Homo sapiens: one gene and its partners. The protein of the gene in region 1 interacts with the protein of each later gene in a pairwise test. Each region holds a gene or a part of one and is shown in the gene's direction. Other genes may lie near its edges.

Evidence for each region.
Region 2: the proteins of VWC2L (region 1) and NR4A3 interact in binary tests that used the Homo sapiens proteins (3 or more experiments, as listed by UniProt).
Region 3: the proteins of VWC2L (region 1) and TYRO3 interact in binary tests that used the Homo sapiens proteins (3 or more experiments, as listed by UniProt).

What each region holds. Positions count from the first base shown.
Region 1 is NC_000002.12:214,413,821-214,421,394, forward strand, and holds part of VWC2L (von Willebrand factor C domain-containing protein 2-like isoform 1 precursor), read left to right. Parts: intron 1-293; 5' UTR 294-373; coding exon 374-763; intron 764-7,574.
Region 2 is NC_000009.12:99,817,599-99,825,277, forward strand, and holds the start of NR4A3 (nuclear receptor subfamily 4 group A member 3), read left to right. Parts: upstream 1-4,286; 5' UTR 4,287-4,809; intron 4,810-7,679. UniProt on the Homo sapiens protein: Transcriptional activator that binds to regulatory elements in promoter regions in a cell- and response element (target)-specific manner.
Region 3 is NC_000015.10:41,569,031-41,576,604, forward strand, and holds part of TYRO3 (tyrosine-protein kinase receptor TYRO3 isoform 1 precursor), read left to right. Parts: intron 1-996; coding exon 997-1,126; intron 1,127-1,209; coding exon 1,210-1,310; intron 1,311-1,573; coding exon 1,574-1,669; intron 1,670-2,007; coding exon 2,008-2,088; intron 2,089-2,564; coding exon 2,565-2,657; intron 2,658-3,412; coding exon 3,413-3,534; intron 3,535-3,971; coding exon 3,972-4,081; intron 4,082-4,277; coding exon 4,278-4,437; intron 4,438-4,648; coding exon 4,649-4,785; intron 4,786-5,167; coding exon of another isoform or gene 5,168-5,201; exon of another isoform or gene 5,202-7,235; intron 7,236-7,574. UniProt on the Homo sapiens protein: Receptor tyrosine kinase that transduces signals from the extracellular matrix into the cytoplasm by binding to several ligands including TULP1 or GAS6. Regulates many physiological processes including cell survival, migration and differentiation.

The sequences.
Region 1 (7,574 bases):
AGTAAAACCATTTCTTTGCAATTTAGATAAAGCCAGACCTATGAAATTCAGAAGGAAAATTCAAGCTGAAGGTTCCTATATAAAATAATCCAAAAGGACAAATTTTAATGCATATATTGCCAAGTATCAACTCTCCAAACCTCACAATAAGGCACAGATAGTTGCATGAACTTAGTCTATTTGAGGACTTAGTATCTTCAAATTGATCCCAAACAGTTTAAGAGCGTGGGCTTAAATGAATCTATCTTCACTTTATATATGTCAAATTATTCTTTTTAAATATTTATTTTCAGCCTACCCCTCTTGTATTCCCATGGAAGGAGCTGAGTATATTTAATATTAGGAGCACATCCAGAAGTCTTTGAAGAGGGGGATGGCTCTTCATATTCATGAAGCTTGCATACTTCTGTTGGTCATCCCTGGATTGGTCACCTCTGCTGCTATCAGTCATGAAGACTATCCTGCTGATGAAGGTGACCAGATCTCCAGTAATGACAATCTGATCTTTGATGACTATCGAGGGAAAGGGTGTGTCGATGACAGCGGCTTTGTATACAAGTTGGGAGAACGATTTTTCCCTGGGCATTCCAACTGTCCATGTGTCTGTGCTCTAGATGGACCTGTTTGCGACCAACCAGAATGCCCTAAAATTCACCCAAAGTGTACTAAAGTGGAACACAATGGATGCTGTCCTGAGTGCAAAGAAGTAAAAAACTTCTGTGAATATCACGGGAAAAATTACAAAATCTTGGAGGAATTTAAGGTATGCGTTACCCTCCATATTTATTGAAATATCAACTTTTCATACCACGTGCTTAGTACATTGCTACATTAAAGTCAGAGTTGGAAAAATGTACTTTAAAATTTCCCTTTAAATTATACAATTTGATTCTAATTACCATAAGTAGCACCATGGTCAACAAATGGCCAACTGGTTTGTTGATCATATTTGTTAAGTTGCACAATAACCTTTATTTTTTTTCCCAGAAGTATTTGGGGCATACCTAACACCTTTTATTTTTGCCCTTAAACATTTCTTCTCTGTTATTACAAAATATGTTTTCTGATGGGAACAATTTTGTGTATAGTGTATGTGTCTCCTAAATTAATTTTTTAATTGTGTCAGTTTTGTGTGTTGCTTATTAGCCTGTATTTGAAGTCATTTAACAATATAGTCTAGAATTATTTGTTTATTGTGTGGAAAAGCTACAGAGATATACTTCTTAGCTGTGGTCCTCATATTAAGAAAATGCATTGGGCCTACTTGTGGTCAAGCAAGATCCCCATTCTGTTCTCTGCTCGCTGGATTTTTTGCTTTCAGGATTCCACAGAGAACTGAATTTTTATCACAATCCATGTAAAGAGTAGTAAAAAAGACTGTAATTTTTTTCAGCCTACCTGGTATTTTTTAGTTTTTCTTTTACGCTTGCGTCATATTTTCAAAGTAGCTTAGAGTTCATTTTTATCCCTTATTGAACTTTCTTTTCCCCAATGGCTAGTTTTAATTGGGATATCCTACAAGCCTGATCTGAACCCTGAAGGTATGAATACATGAAAAATGTCCACCTTAAATGTAATGGCAGTTTGTGCCTGGAGTGTCTGTCATACTGATGGCTTTATATAAAATGTTCCCATTTCATCTAACCAAGTTCTGTGATGAGGTGCTCAGAACCTTAGAGGTAAAAGCAGATATAGCTAGTTTTCAGTGTGGGTGTTTATGTATGAGAGAAGACATTTCCATTATTAGCACTGACCCAACTTCTCTCACCACAAGGGTCAAATGGTGCCAGAAATCAGTATGTAGAAAAAAGGTCTCAACTGATCATCATTAGCATAATCTGTGTATTCATAGTTAATTGTATTTAGTTCATTATTAACCTGGAATGAACCAGGTTAGCGGTTCAAGCCAGTTCTGATTTACCCAAGAATACCCAGTCATTGGAACTAGATTCCTTAGGACAAAAGGGAAATTTTAATTGTGACATTCAACTTCCTTAGACATGTTATTCTCGACTTTTGTCTTTCGTGTATTATTTTATTGCACAAAATTAAGAAGTAAAAGCATGAGAGTCTAGTAAAAGTATCATTGTTGACACCAAATAATAGTTGAGAGTAGAGTACATTTATTAATGGTTTTATGATCTCTAAAATATTGTATATATTTTGACATTACCTATTTTTAATGTCATCTTAATGGAAGTAAGTAGAAGTACTCAACACACTTGATTCTAGCAGTCATATCACCCTTTTCTAACCTGCATTTATATCTAGACTAGAATACAAAAGGGTATTGTAGGAACAGCGTTTCATAACTAGCACAAATAAAAACATAAGTTTCTGAGATTTATATAATTTGGTAATCTGTATTTAATAAAGAAAATATTGTCTAACTTAACTCACTATTGAAAATGCTATAGTTTTCCCTCTATTTATTAGATTTTACTACAAAGATAATAACTATGTTACCATGTCAAACAATATAGAGGTATTTAAAGAAAAAGTTAATAATTTCTGTACCCCTTCTCGTTATAACCCTACTATAATCTAATTAATCCCTACTACTTCTTTCCTAATGTATGATCCATTAATATGCACAGCTTTTTCACCTGGCTTTTTGTGTCATAAAATTTTTGATGTGATTTTTAAAATAATAGATATCACTTTTTTTAACAAGAATTTAGAGTCATAAAGAGTTTTAGAGACTATATAGGGCAAATGTGTCAGAATGAGAAACTGAGACCAAAAAAGTATAAATTACTTATCCAAAATTGTCAAGTTATTTATCTTAATTCTAAATGCTGCCATTCTAACATACTATATGATCTCTCAAAGCAGTTTGTCACTAAGGTCAGATAGACTTGGATTCGAATCCCAAATTCATCACTTGGATATAAATTTTTGAATGGAGTTCTTAAACTTTTTGATCCATAGTGGTATTGACCATAAAATAGCCATTGTAATAATCACTTTCCTTAGGAGGAGAGGTTGGAAATTCTTAATAACATATAATTTCTCTGAAGTCACTAACCTTGTGATGACGGGTACACAATAGGTATTAAATAAATGATTGTCCCCTCCTTCTTAACTCTAATATCCAGGGATTTACTCTAAATTCTAAATTCCTCTATGGCTTTGCCTACATTTTATAATGAAAGTTCAACTTTAAAAGACTTTCAAATGAAGAATTCTCATACCTTTTTAAAATGCTCTACTTATCCCTATGAACCATACAACTCTAAGTAAATATTAGCCATAATCTGTCATCTTGATTCTCTTCCAACTCAGCTTGCAAGGAACAAGTCATTAATTATTAAAGATGCATAAAACTTTCATATAATAATGTTGATATGTCAATTAGGGAGGTTGTATTATGAGATAATCTTCACATAAATATATTCATCCAACAAGCATTTATCAGACCGTTCAGTAGATAAGATACTGTAGACGTACTTACAATTGAAAGTAGGATATCTAGAAACCAAAATCTCTGCTCACAAGAAAGACATGATCGATGTGAAGAGAGAAGGGGGAAAAAGCAGGTAAAAGTTAAGTATATGATTATGAAATCCCAATATAACTCCCAAGAGATTGTGATGGCAGAAGCTTATCAAAATAGTATGAGGCTTGGTTAAGCAAGAGATTTGTCTTCAGGATGCTAACCCTATACATCTTGTAGAGCTGCCTGTTCTTCAAGAAGTACTTGAAATTGATCTGGGAAGACTGAAATTCCAAAGACGAAACTGCCAGAGCAAAATCAGAGATTGGGATGAATACAGTCTGCAAAGAGGAGGGAGATGGGTATAATTGGAAGCTAGATATGACTAAAATGCTATCCTAGTAAGAGGCAAATTCAGATATGTGTCGGTGGAGAGTGGATGGAAGGGCCTTGAATACTGGGCCAAAATATTTAGATTCATCTGAAGAATAATAGGAAATAAAATGCGGATTGTTCTGTACATAGATGACCTAGTTAAACATAAATAAAAATGAATGTCCTATATCCAAGCACAGAATTGAATAGAAGTAAAGAGAAATTAATAGTGGAGGAAGGAAGTCTGTTGCAGAAAAAAAGAGAATGAGGTGCACAAGCACAAAGACATTCAGGACAGTTTTCAGGGTAAAATCTAATTTCCCTGCTGTAGCCTAGATTCTACTCATCAACCTCTCCAAATCCCTCAAACTCTTGGTGGCTTTTTTTCCCTGTGTGTTTGCACTGCTGTTCCACAGTATGGAACACTTTTTCAACATTGCTCCCTGTTTAAATCCTACTGGACCACTTCAAGGCTCCATTTAAATCTCACCTCAACTGGAAACCCCTCTCTGTCTGTCCTACCTCATATCTCCCACACTGTATCACTCCTTCCGTATGTTCCCACGGCCTGCTATACACACCATCACTACAAGAACAGTAACTGTTGTCTGATACTGTGAAGAGCTTTATGTATATTATAACACATTTTATTTTACAATAACACTGTGAGAATTATACTTTTATTAGCACTGTTTTACGGATAAGAAAACTGAAGCAGCAGAGTGTAAGTAACTTGTCCAAGACCATACAGCTGGAAAGAGGAAAAAGTAGGACTCCAAGCCAGGCAGCTTGACTGCAGAATCTAAGCTCCTCACCACTTCTAGTGATCTACCCCACAGCAATAATGTAATACATCACACTGCAATAATATTAAATCATGTAAAATATAATATGAAATAATATCATATGAAACCACTCGTCTCTTCCATTAGTCATTGAACCCTTCGAGGCTAGCGACACTGTTTTCTTTTTTCTTTTCCCCTCTATTCCCAACACCGTGTGAGCTATGTAACAGTCATTTAATACCTTTTTTGATGAATAGCATACCAGGTCAAATTGTAATCAAACCTATAGGATAAAGAAGTTAGAATTTCTTTAGAATGATTTAGTTTCTGTTTATGTGTTGATCTCTTCATTTTAATTAAAGAAGCACTGAAAGTTGAGACAAAAAATGCTCTTTGGGCAGTTAAAATGGCACACATTGTTCTCTTATGATAAGACTGCCTATTTTCGTCCTGCCTTTACTTTCTTCCTCTCTCAACCCCTTCCTCACCAAGGGTTGTCTTGGATTCTGTCTCCATCCCAGCATCGCAATGACTACCCAGTGTTTTAGCTGTACTGTCTCACCCTATGCAGTTGCAAATCATAGGTCACACTTCAATATTTTCTGATCACCAAATTCAAATGTAAATTGATCCACATGTGTCACCTGATAGGAAAACTGATGTCATTTATAAAGGTTGTGGGATTTTTGTGGGGTTTTTATTTCATTTACTGATGCAAGCTTTGAAAATGAATTTCTCTCTATTCTTTTTGAAAACTCTAAATTCTCCAGGGTTCTGGTAATATTGTATTAAGATAAAGGTCACTGTATAGTAGGTTCTCTCATCTTTCTTTTATGTGCACCCCGGCAATATGACACTGGAACCTACTTTTTGAGAAATAAAGCATATAAATAATACATTATAATAGCAGTTTCTACCAGAAAAAGTTTATTGGAAATGTAGGCTTAACTATCTTAATGCTGAGTTTCTCAAAGGAAGAAATAATTTCTTATTTTGCTCAGTATTTTTATAACTCTGATTCTGCTAGAATTAGCTTTTTTGACTATTTCCTTATACTTTAGAACTTGTACTGATTTAGTTGTAGGTCATACACTGAAGGTTATACTACATGTAGCTGAAAGAAACCTTTCAGCTTTTGCATAGCTTGTTTTATTTTAAAGTGATTTTCTGCAGCCAATTCCCAGTGTCCCTAATTCAGGATTTGGATTTGCCCAAGATCAGTGCCCTGCTGACACTGACCTTTGTGTTTTTCCCACTATGGGCCAAAGACAGTGGACCAGGTCTCTGAATTCTATATTCGAAAGGTGCGGTGTGAATATTTTTTCAAGTCAAATGTCTTATGGGTTTGTTGTTGCTTTTATAAAAATGAGCCTGTTTTCAGGATGCCAAGTTTTTGCCCTGAATTTTATACTTAATATTTAAATCTCAAGAGAATAAAAGGGGACCCGCCTGGCCAACATGGTGAAACCCTGCCTCTACTAAAAATACAAAAATTAGCTGGGTGTGGTGGCGGGCACCTCTAGTCCCAGCTACTCGGGAGGCTGAGGCAGGAGAATCGCTGGAACCTGGGAGGTGGAGGCTGCAGTGAGCAGAGATTGCGCCACTGCACTCCAGCCTGGGCAACAGAAGGAGACTCTGTTCCAAAAAAAGAAATAAGAAAATTAAGCCGTGGGATTATTTTGCCAAGTCATCACACTCATAAAAATTGTTGATGCCAATTTGGATTTAGAATTGATTTGCCCTTTAATGGGTATATTCACACAGAGACAAAAATTTCAACCTTCTCATTAATAGGTGCCACATTGTTAATGTCCAATATTGTAAAATTAAATCTGTAAAAACGTTTGAGTGGGAAGAATTTTGGAATTCAGGTTTGGGAGAGTCATTTGACGTCTAGTTGTTTTTTTAATATGGAGAAGAAAATGGAAGGCAACATGTTCTAGGAGCTGAGGACCAGACTTATGAAAGAACAGGGAAAACCAGAGGCTGTAGAGATATCTCAGTTGAGGGGACTAACAGGTAGGTAACACTTTGCACAGCACAATTCACTGCCCCTTGCCTACTTACCCACCTGCCATTGCACGAGTGTCTATGAAAAGCACAGGAACTAAGTCAGATGTTTACACAAGGCAAAGGAGTACAAAAAGCATATATATGAAGTATGAAGCCTGTATTTATTTTAATAACAGAGAAATCAGTGGATTATGAGAATAGAGGTGCAGTTTTTAAAGAGTTTTATACAAAAGAGGGTTTTCATTTCTCAACAAATGGGTAGTGGAGTCACCAGGGGCATTTTTAAGATACTATCCCAAGAAAGAACTAGAAAGCATCATGATTTTATGCGGCAAAGATAATTGGGGATCTTTGTAGAGAGGTTGAGAAGATTAATTCCATAATTATTGGCTCTGCAAAATGCAGTTTCTGTTTTGCAGAGCATGTTGTGGCTTTTAACATTAAAATGGCTTTGAGTGAGTTAAAAGGAATGCCTTCCCCTTTCAAGTTGCTACAAAATAACAGTGATTGAGACCTTACAATTGCTTATCTGAGGCTCAGCCTCAGCATGCAGAATGAGTGGGTTCAAAGTGGATATTCTCAATGGGGGATTCCCATCTTCGTAAGTAACTGGGGAACCTTTACGTAATTTTTATACTCTTTGAGTAATTTCATTCCAGAGATTAGAAGTCAATTTTATTAAAAAATTTATAATGTTCACTGCACACTTTTTGCACCCACAAAAGTACACTAAAAGTTTTTTGCACTCACAGAAGTACATGAAATCTAGGAAAAAATCTACTTTTAAAATAATTTTTCTTAAAAAATTGCATTGATAATTGAGTGTTATCCTTTTGATATTAAGTACTTTCTAAAAGAGAGTAGAATTATAAGAATAAATGGCTTCCAAATTAATTCCCAAAGGAGTGAAATAGCTCATTGACAGTCAGAACTACAGTCTCTTACTTTACATTTTAAGAGAATTG
Region 2 (7,679 bases), on another chromosome or scaffold:
AGGTCAGATAGAAACTTACTATAATGATTGCAGGTTACTGAGCCAGGTACATCTCGTGTATAAATCAATGTCAGCTGAAGTTACTAAATTTTATATATGTACCTTAAATATAGTATAGAACTTCTACATTGATTCCACAAAACTTGAACTTACAATTTTTTACTTTTCTTTCCTGTTTTCACCCTAGGTAACAACTTCTGGCTTAGAATTTTTATTTCACCATTCCTCACCCAATATTTGCATTAATAAGAAATCATCATCTCTATATATTAGTAAAAGCAATAAGATTATACGTCTTTACTTCATCAGAAGAGCATTTAAAGCAATTTAAAACAATTGCTTTATATCACACATAAGTTTCCCCCAAATTTCATATTTTATTTTCTAAGAGAAATAGTTCTTTCTTGCAGGCAGATTAGGCCTACAAATCCAAAACAAAATGAAAGGTAACTATCCAGTGAATCCGTAATGGTTAATTTAGATACTTCTTTAACAGGCTGGCTGCTATAAGCATCATGAAAGCAGAAACTTAACTTCGTGTATGTAAACTAGTGACATATAAATGTCTCTCTTCTGTTATAGAAAAAGGACTGAGCCAAGAAAGTTTTCAACGTTTCACAGATTAAGGTAGTCTTATTTGATTTCCTAAAAGAAGAGATAAAAAAGTTAATAAAATTTTTTAAAAAGGAAATTGAGATTACTGAAATAGTCACATTACATGTGCCTTACAGAATATTATGCCTGGTTTCTAATAAATCCGACTTTTGAAAAGGAATAGAGCAGTAGATACTAATTCAAAAAAAAAAAAAAGACTCGAGAAAAACTAATTCTGTTTGGGTCACCTAAAGAACAGCATACGTTTAGGGACATAGGATTAAGCAGAGGATGGTGTCTCCGTCTACGAGACAGCTGTGTCTCTGCTTCCATGAATTTCCATTTGAGTTTCAAAAGGCTGCCACTCAGTGACCTCTCCAGCAGTCAGTCCCCCTTCCTACCCCGAGAAGCACTGAGCCACGAACAGTTGATTGGCTCAGGGAGGTCAGACAACAGCCCTCAGTCTAACAGAGCAGTCCAGGAACAGATATTGGCCACTTGATAGGAAGAAAAGGATGTAAAGGAGTAAGGATGTAAAGGAAGGAACGGATGTAAAGGAGTGAGGCTGTAAAAAACAGAAAAGGATGTAAAGGAAGGTGGAGGGGAGAAGGGAGGAGGATGCACAGAAGTAACCAAGATAGAGGTCCAGAAGACACACCCACTCAAAGAGAGGAAACTTTGCTTGGAGGTTCTCAGCCAGGGAGAAGAGTTTTTTTGTTTTGTTTTGTTTTAAATTTAGGTAAACAAGGATACTGCTTTGAAACGGTCACTGGAGCCCAACTCATATGAACAATTTAGCAGCTTTATAACAACCCTGAGTGGGCAAGGACCTTTCATACATATTAACATTTAGAAAATGTAGTTTATTGAATAAATTCATTGAAAGATGTCATGTTTCCTAAAAACTGTACCTAATTTTAGGGTTCCTGCTTACAGTGATTCCAGTTCTACATGAGAGTTTTAATTGAAGGAGGATTAGGGGGGTGAGGGAGGTGCAGAACACAAATGAAATTTTTACAGCATGGAAATAAAAGTATTTTTAAATCTTCTTGGGGGTGAAGAGTTAGGCAAGAAGTAATACGTGGAAACTGTCAAGTGCTTCTCTACACATCCACCCACCAGATACCATCGCAGCCGGCTGGGGGAGTCTCCCTCTTCTTGCCTGACAGCTTCACTTTCTTTGAGATCTGGAGCTGGTGATCACACTGGCCCGTCATGGTATTTTCAGTTAACAAAGCAGTTACTCAACGGGGCAAAAAGCCACAAAGGAGCAGAGCAGCTGCTGCTGCACCCGTGATGCAAGTGCAGGATGAGCCCCGGGCCGCCACCGCCGCCTCGGCTCCTCCGTGACGTCCGGGAAGGGTATCCCCGGCACTCAGGAAGTGGTGGCCGCGGGCAGCTCCGCCCCCACGCGACTCGGGGCTGGCCGAGCTGCCGGGTGGTAGAACCGCCGGGCCTTCCGCAGGGCGGGCGGGGATCACCGTCTCCCCACCTCCGTGCGCACACACATGCACGGGCCTCGCGCCCCGCTGTCGCCCGCGCCTCGCCCTGCTCACTTCTCACAGCCCGCGCCGGACGAAGAGAGCCGCCAGCGCCCCCCCTCTCTCCCACGGCTCGCACCCACTCACCCCGACCCCCGGCGCCGAGCCCGGCCCCTCGTCGCCGGTCACCAGACCTGGTCGAACCGAGTCCAAGATGGCGACTCCGCCCCCGCCCCCTCCGCACTCCCGGCGGGGTCAGGGCGCCCCCTCACGCGGCGGGCTCGCGCCCGAGACCCGGCTAAAAATAGCCAGGCCCGACTATATTTGGTTCGGCCGGATCCTGGCGCGGCCGCGCGCTCCCCGCCCCGCCCCGCCCCGCCCCGCGCGCCCTGCCCCGCCCCGCGCGGCGTTGAATGGAGAAGGGGCGGGGGTGACCGAGGGGAACCTACTCCGCTATCTGCGGCGCGCGCCGGCGGCGGGTCCCGGCCAACCGCCGAATTTAGTAACATCGCCTGCGTCAATCACGCGCCTCGCGTGCGTCAGCGCCGCGCGGCTCCAGGTCCTGCTCCCCCCCTTCAAGCCTTTGAATGGATACAATGTAGCAGCGCCCTCCTTCCTTCCGAGGCTGGATTGGAACCCGCCGCAGTGCAGAGACTCGGTTGCTCTCGGCTGGGTCAACTTTCGGGGCATTCTCCCACGATCCTCTCCGCACCACCGTGTCTGAATTGGAAGTGGAGGCGAAGAAAGATATACATGCCATATTTACCTATATGTAGTTTGTTTTCAAGTTTCTGGTCCTAGCTCGAACCTTCTTCGATTCTGAAATGTGTGCTGTCTACAAAGGAATCTTGTATCTCCCCTCGGCGCAGCGCCCCCCGCCCCCGCCACACACACACAAATTGGGACAGGTCAAACATATAAAACGGTATTTGTGATTCAAGCGGACCACATGGGGACCACTCTATCTGCATTGTTTCACTCAAATATTTTCTCCTGTCCAAAAATTCATTTCTGAAAGAGACTGCGTTCACTCAGCAGCAACCTTTGGGACTAGGGGTCTTTAACTCTGATAAATTTTGTTTTCATCAAGAAATTTACACTTAAATTTATCATTTCCAGGAAGAAATTGCTCTCCTTCATACAGTCACCCAGGCTTTCGGCACACCATTTCATGACAAATGTGTCCGAGGAGACCAAAGCAAATCCCCTAGCGAGGGACTGACTAATAAGTCCTGTTGATTGATTTCGAAATGTTTAATTTGGGAGATGTGGGCGGAGGGCATCTACAACCATCAAAAAGTGAAAGTGCTAGTTGAGAGTTCCATTTCTGACCCGGTGCCGGGGAGGAGGAATGATTTGCAATAGTCAGACCCGCTCAGCTGTTCAACACGTGTGTGTTTGTTTTACACACAGAGTAGTTTCTGCTGCAGCGCGCGTGTGCATGATGGATGTGCACTTCGCTGGGTTATAACGTGTCCAGTTAAGAAACCCACGCCGTACGTGTAAAGAAATCAAACCTTATCCCCGGAACCATCTGCATCCCTGTGTGAAACACGCACCCAGTAAATGATGCGGGGAGGGGGGATTAGCCTGGGCGCAGAGGACCGGAGCAACGTAAACAGCTTTAGAACCTATGCAAGAGGAAAGTGCAGCTGCACCTCAGGGCGTCTTCGGGCTGGTGCCAGACGCCTTCTGCACCGGCTGCCAGGTCACTGGAGCTGGTCAGAAGCTGGCTGGCGGAGCCTTCCCTTTCGGAAGAGCTGTCCTCTCCCTTACCCCCCTCGCCCTGGCTCCGTGCCTCGGGGCAGCCTCGGAGGCGCGCCAGCAGCACTCCTCCAACTCTACTCCACCCGAGCCTGACAGCTGGGCGGTCCCGCCTGACCCGTGGGCAGGCCGCTGCACCCTCCCGCAGACGCACGCCCTGGCGAGCGGTTCCGCTGCAAAAAGAGAAGCCCCCAGGCCGGGGCCGGCCGTGCGGCGGAGTTTCCATTGTGCGGCCGTGCGACTGGCCGAGGAACGCGCGCGCGCGCGCGCGCACACGAACACACACACCCTCCCTCGCACACGCGGAACCGGCTGGGCCAGGGGAGGGAGGAGGAGGGTGACGTAGCGTCCCATGGCGTCACATTGACGTCTCGCATTCCAGGCACTCTATGGAGAGGCCGCTAGGGCTCCTGTGGCATAAATGACGTGCCGAGAGAGCGAGCGAACGCGCAGCCGGGAGAGCGGAGTCTCCTGCCTCCCGCCCCCCACCCCTCCAGCTCCTGCTCCTCCTCCGCTCCCCATACACAGACGCGCTCACACCCGCTCCCTCACTCGCACACACAGACACAAGCGCGCACACAGGCTCCGCACACACACTTCGCTCTCCCGCGCGCTCACACCCCTCTTGCCCTGAGCCCTTGCCGGTGCAGCGCGGCGCCGCAGCTGGACGCCCCTCCCGGGCTCACTTTGCAACGCTGACGGTGCCGGCAGTGGCCGTGGAGGTGGGAACAGCGGCGGCATCCTCCCCCCTGGTCACAGCCCAAGCCAGGACGCCCGCGGAACCTCTCGGCTGTGCTCTCCCATGAGTCGGGATCGCAGCATCCCCCACCAGCCGCTCACCGCCTCCGGGAGCCGCTGGGCTTGTACACCGCAGCCCTTCCGGGACAGCAGCTGTGACTCCCCCCCAGTGCAGATTTCGGGACAGCTCTCTAGAAACTCGCTCTAAAGACGGAACCGCCACAGCACTCAAGTACGTATGAGATTCGCCCAGTTAATAAGGGGACTTGCTAAAAAAGTTGGCTTGCTGGGAAGCGTCGCTCCTGAAATTGACAACTTTGAGTGTGGGGTTCCCTCCCCTGACCTTGCCGCCCGGCTCCGGCTTTGCTAGCCCAGCGGCCCGTAGGTTCTGATCTGAAACTTTTCCCCTGTAGTGGGCCCGCGGGGATCTCTGGAGCTCGTGGGATTCCTCCCCCCACTCGAAGAGGCGAAAAGCCTCTAACAAAGAGGAGGACCGGGATTTGTGCTATAGCGGCTCCAGCGATGTAATTCAGGGTATTTCGGCTCTAGTTGTCATGGTAATGATGCTCTCGGCGGCGGCGGCGGCGGCGGCAGCGGCAGCGGCAGGGAGTTGCAGCTCCGGTGATGAACGGCAGTAATTTTCCTGCCTTTTAAGTAGGATTGAAAATAGGAGCTCTGGTGGGTCCAAGTAAATGTTGCTAATGGTGGCACCGAGCTGGTTCTCTGGAAGGAAGCTTAGGAGGGAAGGGCCTAGGCAGCGACGGCCAGAGTTTGCAGACGCACTCGGAGGACCTCAGGAAAGAGGGCGTAATTGTAGGAATGTGGCTTATTGTATTGAAATGAGCCTGGGGTTCCACTAGGCACGTCTGCCTGTCGTCGCTGACATGCCGGTTTACACTTTTCCCTTAGGAGGTAAATCGGGTGTAATTGGCGACTCCCGCACACTGACACGTGTGGGGACGGTGTCCCTCTCCTCTGGACGTTGGCTCGGTGTGGGAAAGGCATGCTTTTTCACGGACAGAACTCGCGCTTTTGGAGAAGTTGCTCCGAGTGTTTTACTCTTAGTAGAAATGAAAGTTCTCGGTGGTGAGACGAGAGCGGTCATGCGAGCGCAGCCTGCGGAGACTGACTTCCAAAGGCACCTCTCCAACCTGTTGGAAGCCTCGGGGCAGTGGTGAGGAAGAACGCATTTGTCCCTTGATTTCCAAAAACGTTCTTGGAGATTGCCTTTTATTTATTTATGCGTCCGGATTCTCCAGAGGGAAGAGCTGCGAGGAGTTAGTAATCAGAAATGTCGGGCTGTGATCCCAGGGCCTTGTGGTGCTGGGAGAGAAGAACAGGGAGCCGTCATTCCATCGCGAGTCCAGTGCCGGATCTCCTTTTCCCACGACCGGGAAATATTTTATAGAATCAAGTTAGGGAAAGAAAAAGCTGCCTAACGTGGCTGATGGGCACAATGAATGAAGTTACTTTATTCGAGTTATTTTCGCTGAACAAGATGCTCGCAGAGTTAGTATCAAAGCCTCCTTAGGCCACAGCAACCTCCACGTCCGCTCCGCCCCCCACCCCCCGGCACCCATCCACCCCTTTGCCTGGGACCGTGCGCTCACAGAAATTCTTCCCCGCGGTTTGTCTAGTCTCCCTCGGTCTTTCTGAGAATCTCAGTCTTTCCCTTTCTGTCAGTCTCTCCCTCGCTCCTCTTGCCCCCGCCCAACCTCCGCCCCCGCTCCCCAGGGTTGGAAACTCCGCAGAGGAGCCCCGGTCACAATGGTGCGTTTCACGGTTTCCTCCACACACTTCACCACCGGGAGGGGAACACGGGGGTGTTCCTTTCGTCTGCCCACGAGAAAGAAAGGGGCTTTGACAGAGGTAGTTATTTCTTCCTAATTTACAACCCCAAGGCTCTGTGCTCCCGGCCCCGGCGGCCGCAAGCAGGAGCGGCGGAACGTGTTTCCAGGCACTGAGGCTTTGCCTAGGTAACCGGCCGCTTGTGGGGTGGAGAGAGCGGCGGGGCGCTGGGCTGGGCTGGAGGAAAGGCTGTGTGGGTCCCTCCCGCGAACGCTGGGCGCTCGAGGGGAACTCCTTCGTTGGGGAGAGGCGGTCCCCGCCCACCCGAGTTCTGAGGCCTCCTCTCAGAGAACGACTCCGCTTGAAAGGCCCTCAGGGAATGCGGGACGGGAATGCGGGCACCCACTGAAGGGGCGGGTGGGGGATTGCTGGAGACCCCCATTGAAGATGCGGGGAGACGGGAAGCACGTGCTACAGCCGTGGGAAGATCCGCTTCTACCCGCGCTACATCGAGCGCAAGCTTTCCGTCCGAGCAGCTCCAGCTGGGGCTGGGGGTGGCAAGGGAATCCCCCATTTCCTGGTCGTCGAGGGTTTCCTGGACCTGGGAGCCCCGAGTCCCTTTCTCTCTTCCTGCAGGCAAGCCCCGGGCTCAGGGGCGCCAGGAGATGACCCTCGTGGCCCCGCGCACCTCGGAGGTTTTTGGTTTGGTTTGATTTGGGGTTTTTCGGTCCCTGTTCCCACTCTTCGAGCTGCGCCCACCCCGGGCAAAGGGGGCGCTATAGGCCGGAGTTTGGGCACCCAGTTCCTTCCCTGAGGCCTGCTGAGCTGCGCTTTCAGCTACAAAGTTTCGCTGAGGCTGTGGGCTGAGACGCTGGTCCCGGAGCTGCGCTCGGCGCCCTCAGGAATGTGCCCCCGCTAGGCCGCTGGGTGGCCAGGAGCCTCCAAGCCGCCCACCCTCGAAGACACCGCCCTCTGGGTGCAGGGGACCTGCCTCCGCTCGTCCCATCAGCCGCTAACGCCGTCCGCTTCGTCCCCTTGCTTCCAGCGCCAGCCTTCTCATCGCTGTGCCCTTTTGTTTGCTTGACCCCTGGCCCTCGAAACTCGCGGCTAATAGAAGCGAAGCTCCATTAGCATTTAGAATGAAAAGCGCAGACTTTCTTAATTCCTCGGGGCATTCATGCATTCGTTCCGGACCTTGTGCATTTCCTATGCAACGTGTAAAATTTGTATTTGAGGGGTGGGGGCGGGCGGAGCTGGAAAATGGCTTTTTTCCGCTGGTGAACACTCACTGACCCCCCGTATTCGGGCGGAGCT
Region 3 (7,574 bases), on another chromosome or scaffold:
TGTAGGTGGAGAGGGGCAGAGGCTCAGGGGATCAAGGTTTTCAAGGGCAACCTAGACTGATGGGAGGAGCCTAGTAGCATCTCCCCTCCTAGTAGACCCACAGACAGAGTGAAGAAGTTGAGGCCAGGGCTGTTTAAACTATCTTGGCTGGGCATGGTGGCTCATGCCTGTAATCCCAACATTTTGGGAGGTTGAGGGATCGCTTGAGGCCGGCAGTTTGAGACCAGCTCTGGCAACATAGCAAGACTCTGTCTCTACAAAAAAATTAAAAAAAAAAAAAAAAAACAATTAGCCTGGTGTAGTGACATATGCCTGTTAAGCCCAGCTGCTCCAGAGGCTGAGGCAGGAGGATTGCTTGAGCCCAGGTGTTTGAGGCTGCAGTGAGCTATGATTGCACCACTGCACTCCAGCCTGGGCAACAGAGTGAGTCTGTTGTCTCTAAAGAAACAAACAAATAAGGCCAGGAGTGGTGGTTCACACCTATAATCCCACAACTTTGGGAGGCTGAGGTGGAAGGATTGCTTGAGTCTAGGAGTTTGAGACCACCTTGGGCAGCAAAGTGAGACTTTACCAAAAAAATTTAAAAATTAGTCAGGTGTGATGTTGCACACCTGTAGTCCCAGCTACTTGGGAGGCTGAAGTGGAAGGATTGCTTGAGCCCAGGAGGTTGAGGCTGCAGTGAGCTGCAACTGTGCCCCTGCACTCTGGCCTGGGCAACAGAACAAGACTGTGTCTCAAACAAACTATATCTCATTCTCCTCTCTCTGCCCCAGAACTGGCATAGAAATCCATGGTCACCCTCTAGGTCACAACAGCCAGGGCCTGTCTCTGACCAGGTAGGAAGGACTCTTAGGCATTCCTCTGGAGCCCCTTTCCCTCAGGACCCTTATTGACCTAGAGGAGCCCCTTGAACCAGCTGGATGGCCATCCTGGGAAAGTTCTGAAGGGACCTCATGGTGTCATCCTAGCTCATGCCACTGCACCTCCCTCCCACAGGCCAGCAGGGCCCTCCTCACAGCCGCACATCCTGGGTACCTGTGGTCCTTGGTGTGCTAACGGCCCTGGTGACGGCTGCTGCCCTGGCCCTCATCCTGCTTCGAAAGAGACGGAAAGAGACGCGGTTTGGGTAAGGGGATGGGGATGTGGAGGGAGAGGCAGGTAATGATGAAAGACCTTGGAGCTGACCCCAAATCCTGGGTTTTCCTTTAGGCAAGCCTTTGACAGTGTCATGGCCCGGGGAGAGCCAGCCGTTCACTTCCGGGCAGCCCGGTCCTTCAATCGAGAAAGGCCCGAGCGCATCGAGGCCACATGTGAGTGGTGGGTGATCGTGGGAAGGACAAATGGGCTGTCTTGTGCCCCATCTGCATTCTTTTACCAAATTATTAATTTGACTGATATGTCTGAACATCAGTGAGCCCCAGGCACACAAATCTGCCTGTGTGGAGTTCACCACCCCAGCCGTGGGAGACCTAAGCTCATCTCTATGCTCTGAGGGCAGAGTCTGGGGTATAAGAGGCTGGGTTTTGGCTCAGGAATCAGAGATCCCTCTTTCCCACAAACCCTTTCCCCACAGTGGACAGCTTGGGCATCAGCGATGAACTAAAGGAAAAACTGGAGGATGTGCTCATCCCAGAGCAGCAGTTCACCCTGGGCCGGATGTTGGGCAAAGGTATGTGAGGCTGTGTGGGGATGGGCATGGCTGGTTTGCTGTAGCTGGAAGTGTTTGGTTGCCCCTGTCACTTTGAGGCTGTGGGTTTGGGTCGGTTGCCGTAAACAAGATATGCTTGTAGACTCCTGAGTGTGGGATGTTTGTGGGGAATGGTGGCTGGAGACAGGGAGGGCTGAGGAGCTGCTCCCAGCATGCTCTTGCTTTGGCTACTGGCAAGGGTGCCTTCTCCACTGGCCCCAGAGTCTGCTGACTGTGTTCCCATGGAGGGTCACTTGGGAGGAAGGTTGGCAGGGAGCAGAGAGCCAAGGAGACTCTCCCTTACTTGGATTGGTTCCTAGGAGAGTTTGGTTCAGTGCGGGAGGCCCAGCTGAAGCAAGAGGATGGCTCCTTTGTGAAAGTGGCTGTGAAGATGCTGAAAGGTGAGTGGGGGATAGCTGTAGCCTGAGGGCATCACTTGGAAGGGTAAGAGGGGCGACTGACCCTGAAGCAGGCTCTGCTTTGCCCCTAGATTTTCCAAGAAGAGCTGGGCAGCACTAACTGGGATGCTCTTTACCACACGAATAATTCACAAGCATAAACCCAAACATACATATTCATGCCCAGCCATTGCTCTCTGCCATCGGCAGTGACTGTCCTCTGAGTCCCCTCTTGGGTGATTACAGCTGTGGTTGGTTGACCTGCTGGGCTGCCCAAACCAAAGGGAAGGGAAGGCATTAGCAAGTGGAGAAGTTGCTAAGTATCACCACTCCTTGGGGGTTTCTCCTGCTCATGGCTGGGCTGTTTCCTGGGCTCCCTGGGAAGCCTAGGACATCTGAAGGACAAGACCTAGGAGGCCTGGGTCAAAACTAGGGGCACATCTTGTTTTATTTCCTCCTTCCCCATCCCCTTCTCCTAGCTGACATCATTGCCTCAAGCGACATTGAAGAGTTCCTCAGGGAAGCAGCTTGCATGAAGGAGTTTGACCATCCACACGTGGCCAAACTTGTTGGTGAGCCCATTTTTGGGGGAGGCAGATAGAGAATAGGGCTAAAAATATGCTCTACCAATATGAGATGGCAGCCTATAGGAGAGACTTTTGGACTCATCTGGTAAATAAATAGATGGCAAAATAGCAAGGAGGGTCCTGGCAGAAATCTGAGGTGAGGAGTGCCAAAGGTCTGCACATGAAGACTGTGTGGCTGGATGTGGTGGCTCATGCCTATAACCTCAGCACTTTGGGAGGCTGAGGTGGGAGAATTGCTTGAGGCCAGGGGTTTGAGACTAGCCTGGGCAGTATAGCAACAGCCCACCTCTATTTAAAAAAAAAAAACAAAACAAAAAACATACACACACACACACGTATACAAAAATTAGCTAGGTGTGGTGGTGTGCACCTTTGTCCAGCTACCCGGGAGGCTGAGGTGGGAGGATCATTTGAGCCCAGAACATTGAGGCTGCAGTGAGCTGTGATTGCGCCACTGCACTCCAGCCTAGATGACAGAGCAAGATACTGTTTCAGAAAAAACAAAGACTGCTTGTGTGGACAGAGAAGGAAAGGAAGGGGACAGAAGATGCTCCAGGGATATGGGAGCAGCCAGAGTCCCTCCTGGGTAGTCCCCAGACCAGTGTGGAGCCTGTGAAAAAATAAAAAATAAATAGCAGAGCCAGAGCTAGAGATGGGACCCAGCAGGTGGGGACTTATGCAGACACCTGAACTGCCCCTTGACCCTTCTATGCTCAGCTCCTGACTCTCCCTTGTCCCAGGGGTAAGCCTCCGGAGCAGGGCTAAAGGCCGTCTCCCCATCCCCATGGTCATCTTGCCCTTCATGAAGCATGGGGACCTGCATGCCTTCCTGCTCGCCTCCCGGATTGGGGAGAACCCCTTTGTGAGTACCTGGTGTGGGGGTGGCCAGGAGGAAACGGGTGGGAACACAGGGCCTGGAAAGGCATAGAGACCCTGGCAGAGAGGGGCTTGCTGGGTAGGGCTGATGGAGCTGGGTGGGAGTAGGAGGGGTCTGAGTTTGAATCCTTTTAATCTAGCAGGCTTTCTTTTCTCTCACAAAACCCTGCTGAGAAATATAGGCTGGGCAAGGGCCCTTTCTAGAGGGAGGGACTTGTGGAGCCCCAGGGTGGGGGAGTCTCGTCTTCCAGGCTCCCTCTTAGGCTAGCCGAAGCTTCCTTGCCTTGGGAAGGCCCTCCATCCCCTTCCTTCCTTCCAGTGATTCTGGGGACAGCCTTCAGGCTTTCTGGCCAGGGACCCCCATCCATCCTGCCCCAGCTGGGTGGGCAGGTTAAGCCTGAGCTTGGCCTGTCTGTCCACTAGAACCTACCCCTCCAGACCCTGATCCGGTTCATGGTGGACATTGCCTGCGGCATGGAGTACCTGAGCTCTCGGAACTTCATCCACCGAGACCTGGCTGCTCGGAATTGCATGTACGAATTCTGGAGGACTCGAGGGTGGGAGACAGCAGCAGGTGCCAAGAGGAGCTAGCTGATGGTCGGCTCCTGCCTGGGACAGTATCTGCTATGCATGGGGGTAGCTTGGGAGCAAAGATGCAAAGATGTCCTGGCTCTTGTGGGCCTGTGAGCATGGCAGAAGGCTGACTCTCTCCCTCAATGCCCCTTGTAGGCTGGCAGAGGACATGACAGTGTGTGTGGCTGACTTCGGACTCTCCCGGAAGATCTACAGTGGGGACTACTATCGTCAAGGCTGTGCCTCCAAACTGCCTGTCAAGTGGCTGGCCCTGGAGAGCCTGGCCGACAACCTGTATACTGTGCAGAGTGACGTGGTGAGCAGGGTGGCCCGTGAAGCTTGGTGGGGACGAGTGTGAGAGCAGACCTTTAGGATCCTTAAGGGCCTAGCCAAGTCTGCTCTCTGGGGTTTGGTTGCCCCCTGATGAGGCCCTGAGCCCCAGGTTGTGCTTGTCTCAGAGCCATGGCTCTCTGCCTGGCTCAGGACACCTAGTGACAGCTTCTCCCCCAACCTCGATTCTGTCCCAGTGGGCGTTCGGGGTGACCATGTGGGAGATCATGACACGTGGGCAGACGCCATATGCTGGCATCGAAAACGCTGAGATTTACAACTACCTCATTGGCGGGAACCGCCTGAAACAGCCTCCGGAGTGTATGGAGGACGTGTGAGTATCCTGGGAAGGGGGCTCTGGAAGGAAAGGGGAATCTGGAGTTTTGGCTGATGGCTGCCACCACAGTTGCCTCAACTGGACCTTTGTTTTTTGATAGAAACATCCTTGTAGTTGGAAGGCTGCACTCCACCTCATACTCACTGTTCATCTACCACCTCCCTGTTTTCTTTCTTTCCCCCTTTCCCATCCCAGATTTCTTGCTTTAGCCTTTGTCTATCAGTCTCTTTTCTCCAGTTTGTAAGGAGAACCAGGAACCCCAAGAGCAGAAGGCACAGTGCTGAGTAACAGTGTGGGAGGTTTCCCTGCCATCTTCCCACCCGTCATTCCTTTTCTTTTTTTAATTTGTATTTATTTTATTTTATTTGTTCTACCCTAGTGAATACAACCTTTGTCCTGGAGACCCCAGCTAGTCTAAGAAAACTTCCTAGGCTGAGCTCTCTTGGGAATCTAAGATAAAGAACTGAGATCCTGGGAAGAAGGGAACTGCCTCCTCTTCTTTCTGCAAGCCCAAAGCCCTCGGGACTGGGCAGGCAATGATACCACCCACTTTGCTACAGTGATAACAGACCCTGTGACAAGATAATGGGAAGTGTCACTGACATTAGCTGGGCATTTAGGCATTCTTTCAGGTAATCTTCCTCTGACCTTATGAGGAAAAGACTATTATTTATCCCCACTTTGTAGATGAGAAAATAGGATTAGAGAGATTAAGTAACATGGCCAACGTCACAGAGCTAGTAAGTGAATAAGTTGGAATTTGAACCTAGATCCCTGTAGTTTTAGAATATATACTCTTAACTCTTTATGACAACAACTGTGATTTGTCTGTTCTAGTCTTACACTCCCACTCCATCCAAGCCAAGGGCTCCCTAGGCCTTCAGACAACCTTTTGTGAGTATTTTTTGTTTTGTTTTTTGAGACAGGGTCTCGCTTTGTCACCCAGGCTGGAGTGCAGTGGCGTGATCTCTGCTTACTGCAGCCTCAACCTCCTGGGCTCAAGTGATCCTCCCTCCCCAGCCTTCCAAGTAGCTGGGACTACAGGCACGTGCCACCACACTCGGCTAATTTTTGTATTTTTGTAGAGACAGGGCTCCGCCATATTTGTCAAGCTGGTCTTGCGCTCCTGGGCTCAAGGGATCCATCTGCCTTGGCCTCCCAAAATGCTGGGATTACAGGTGTGAGCCACCACGCCCAGCCCAGAGGACCTTTCATGAGCCCCAGGGGGAGTGGGAGCCACTGTGACCAGAGAAAGAATCTGCTCCATTTCTTGCTCTGGGATTGGACTTCCAGAGGGCCGAGGTCATGGACAGGCACAGGAAGGCTCAGCCTGATGGTGGGGTCCTTCCCTTGGACAGTGGGTTTGAAGTGCCCTGAGCCTGGGCTGTGGGTAACTCACCTACACCTGAGAGGGAAATCTTGAGTAGACAAGCCAGGCCCTGGCCCTCCTGTTCATTCAGCAGAGCTCAGGGCATGGCAAGGGGCAGGAAGCTCACATCTCCCTGTGGCTGCAGCCTGCTTCAGTTCTAATCTGGCGCTGTAGAAGCTCTGAAGGGCAGTGGGGACCAGACCCCAGCGCAGCCTCCTCCCCAGCTGGAGCTGGTGCTGTCAATGGAGAGTGGGCAGGCACTGGCCTCACCCAGGCAGCCTGGTGGACAGGCGCCAGTTGGCTCCTAGCACAGCCTTGAGGACGTGTCCCAGTCTGGCCATGTACCCACGGCCCCAGACCATTCCCATTCCCACGACCTGTTCAGTGTCTGGCATGATTACTGCCATTACTGGTGGCCCCTGCTGGGGGTGTGCTGGTGTGTGAGGCAGTGCTTGGGGCTCTTGTCATGGGCATAGGCAAGAGAGTCAGGCATTTGCATTCATTGGACTTGGTCTCAGCGTCTTTCCATTAGGTTTTTGGTTTGTTATTTTTCCACCTGAGCCTGAGGCATTCCTTGGGCATCCTGAGTGATAGGCTTCAGGGAATTTATAAGGTTCCTGAAATTGTATGTAAAAAAGCATTCCTGGCAGGGGACGGTGGCTCACGCCCGTAATCCCAGCGCTTTGGGAGGCGGATCTCCTGAGGTCGGGAGTTCCAGACCAGCCTGACCAACATAGAGAAACCCCGCCTCTATTAAAAATACAAAATTAGCTGGGCGTGGTGGCGCATGCCTGTAATGCCAGCTACTTGGGAAGCTGAGGCAGGAGAATCACTTGAACCCGGGAGGCAGAGGTTCTGGTGACCCGAGATCACACCATTGCACTCCAGCCTGGGCAACAAGAGCAAAACTCCATCTCAAAAAAAAAAAAAAAAAAAAATTAATTCCTGTTGGCAGGAGAGCTGGAAGCTTTTTCCAGATACTCAAAAGTTATATATGAATAGTGAGGACTTTTTCTTTTTTTTGAAATGGAGTTTTGCTCTTGTCGCCCAGGCTGGAGTGCAATGGCACAATCTTGGCTCACCACAACTTCCACCTCCTGGATTCAAGCGATTCTCGTGCCTCAGTCTCCTGAGTAGCTGGGATTACAGGCATGCACCACCCTGCCCAGCTAATTTTGTATTTTTAGTAGAGACGGGGTTTCTCCATGTTGATCAGGCTGGTCTCAAACTCCCGACCTCAGGTGATCTGCCCACCTTGGCCTCCCAAAGGGCTGGGATGACAGGTGTGTGCCACCTTGCCCAACCAATTTTTGTATTTTTTAGTAGACACGGGGTTTCATCATGTTGGCCAGGCTGGACTCGAACTCCTGACCTCAAGTGATCCACCTGCTTCGGCCTCCCAAAGTGCTGGGATTAC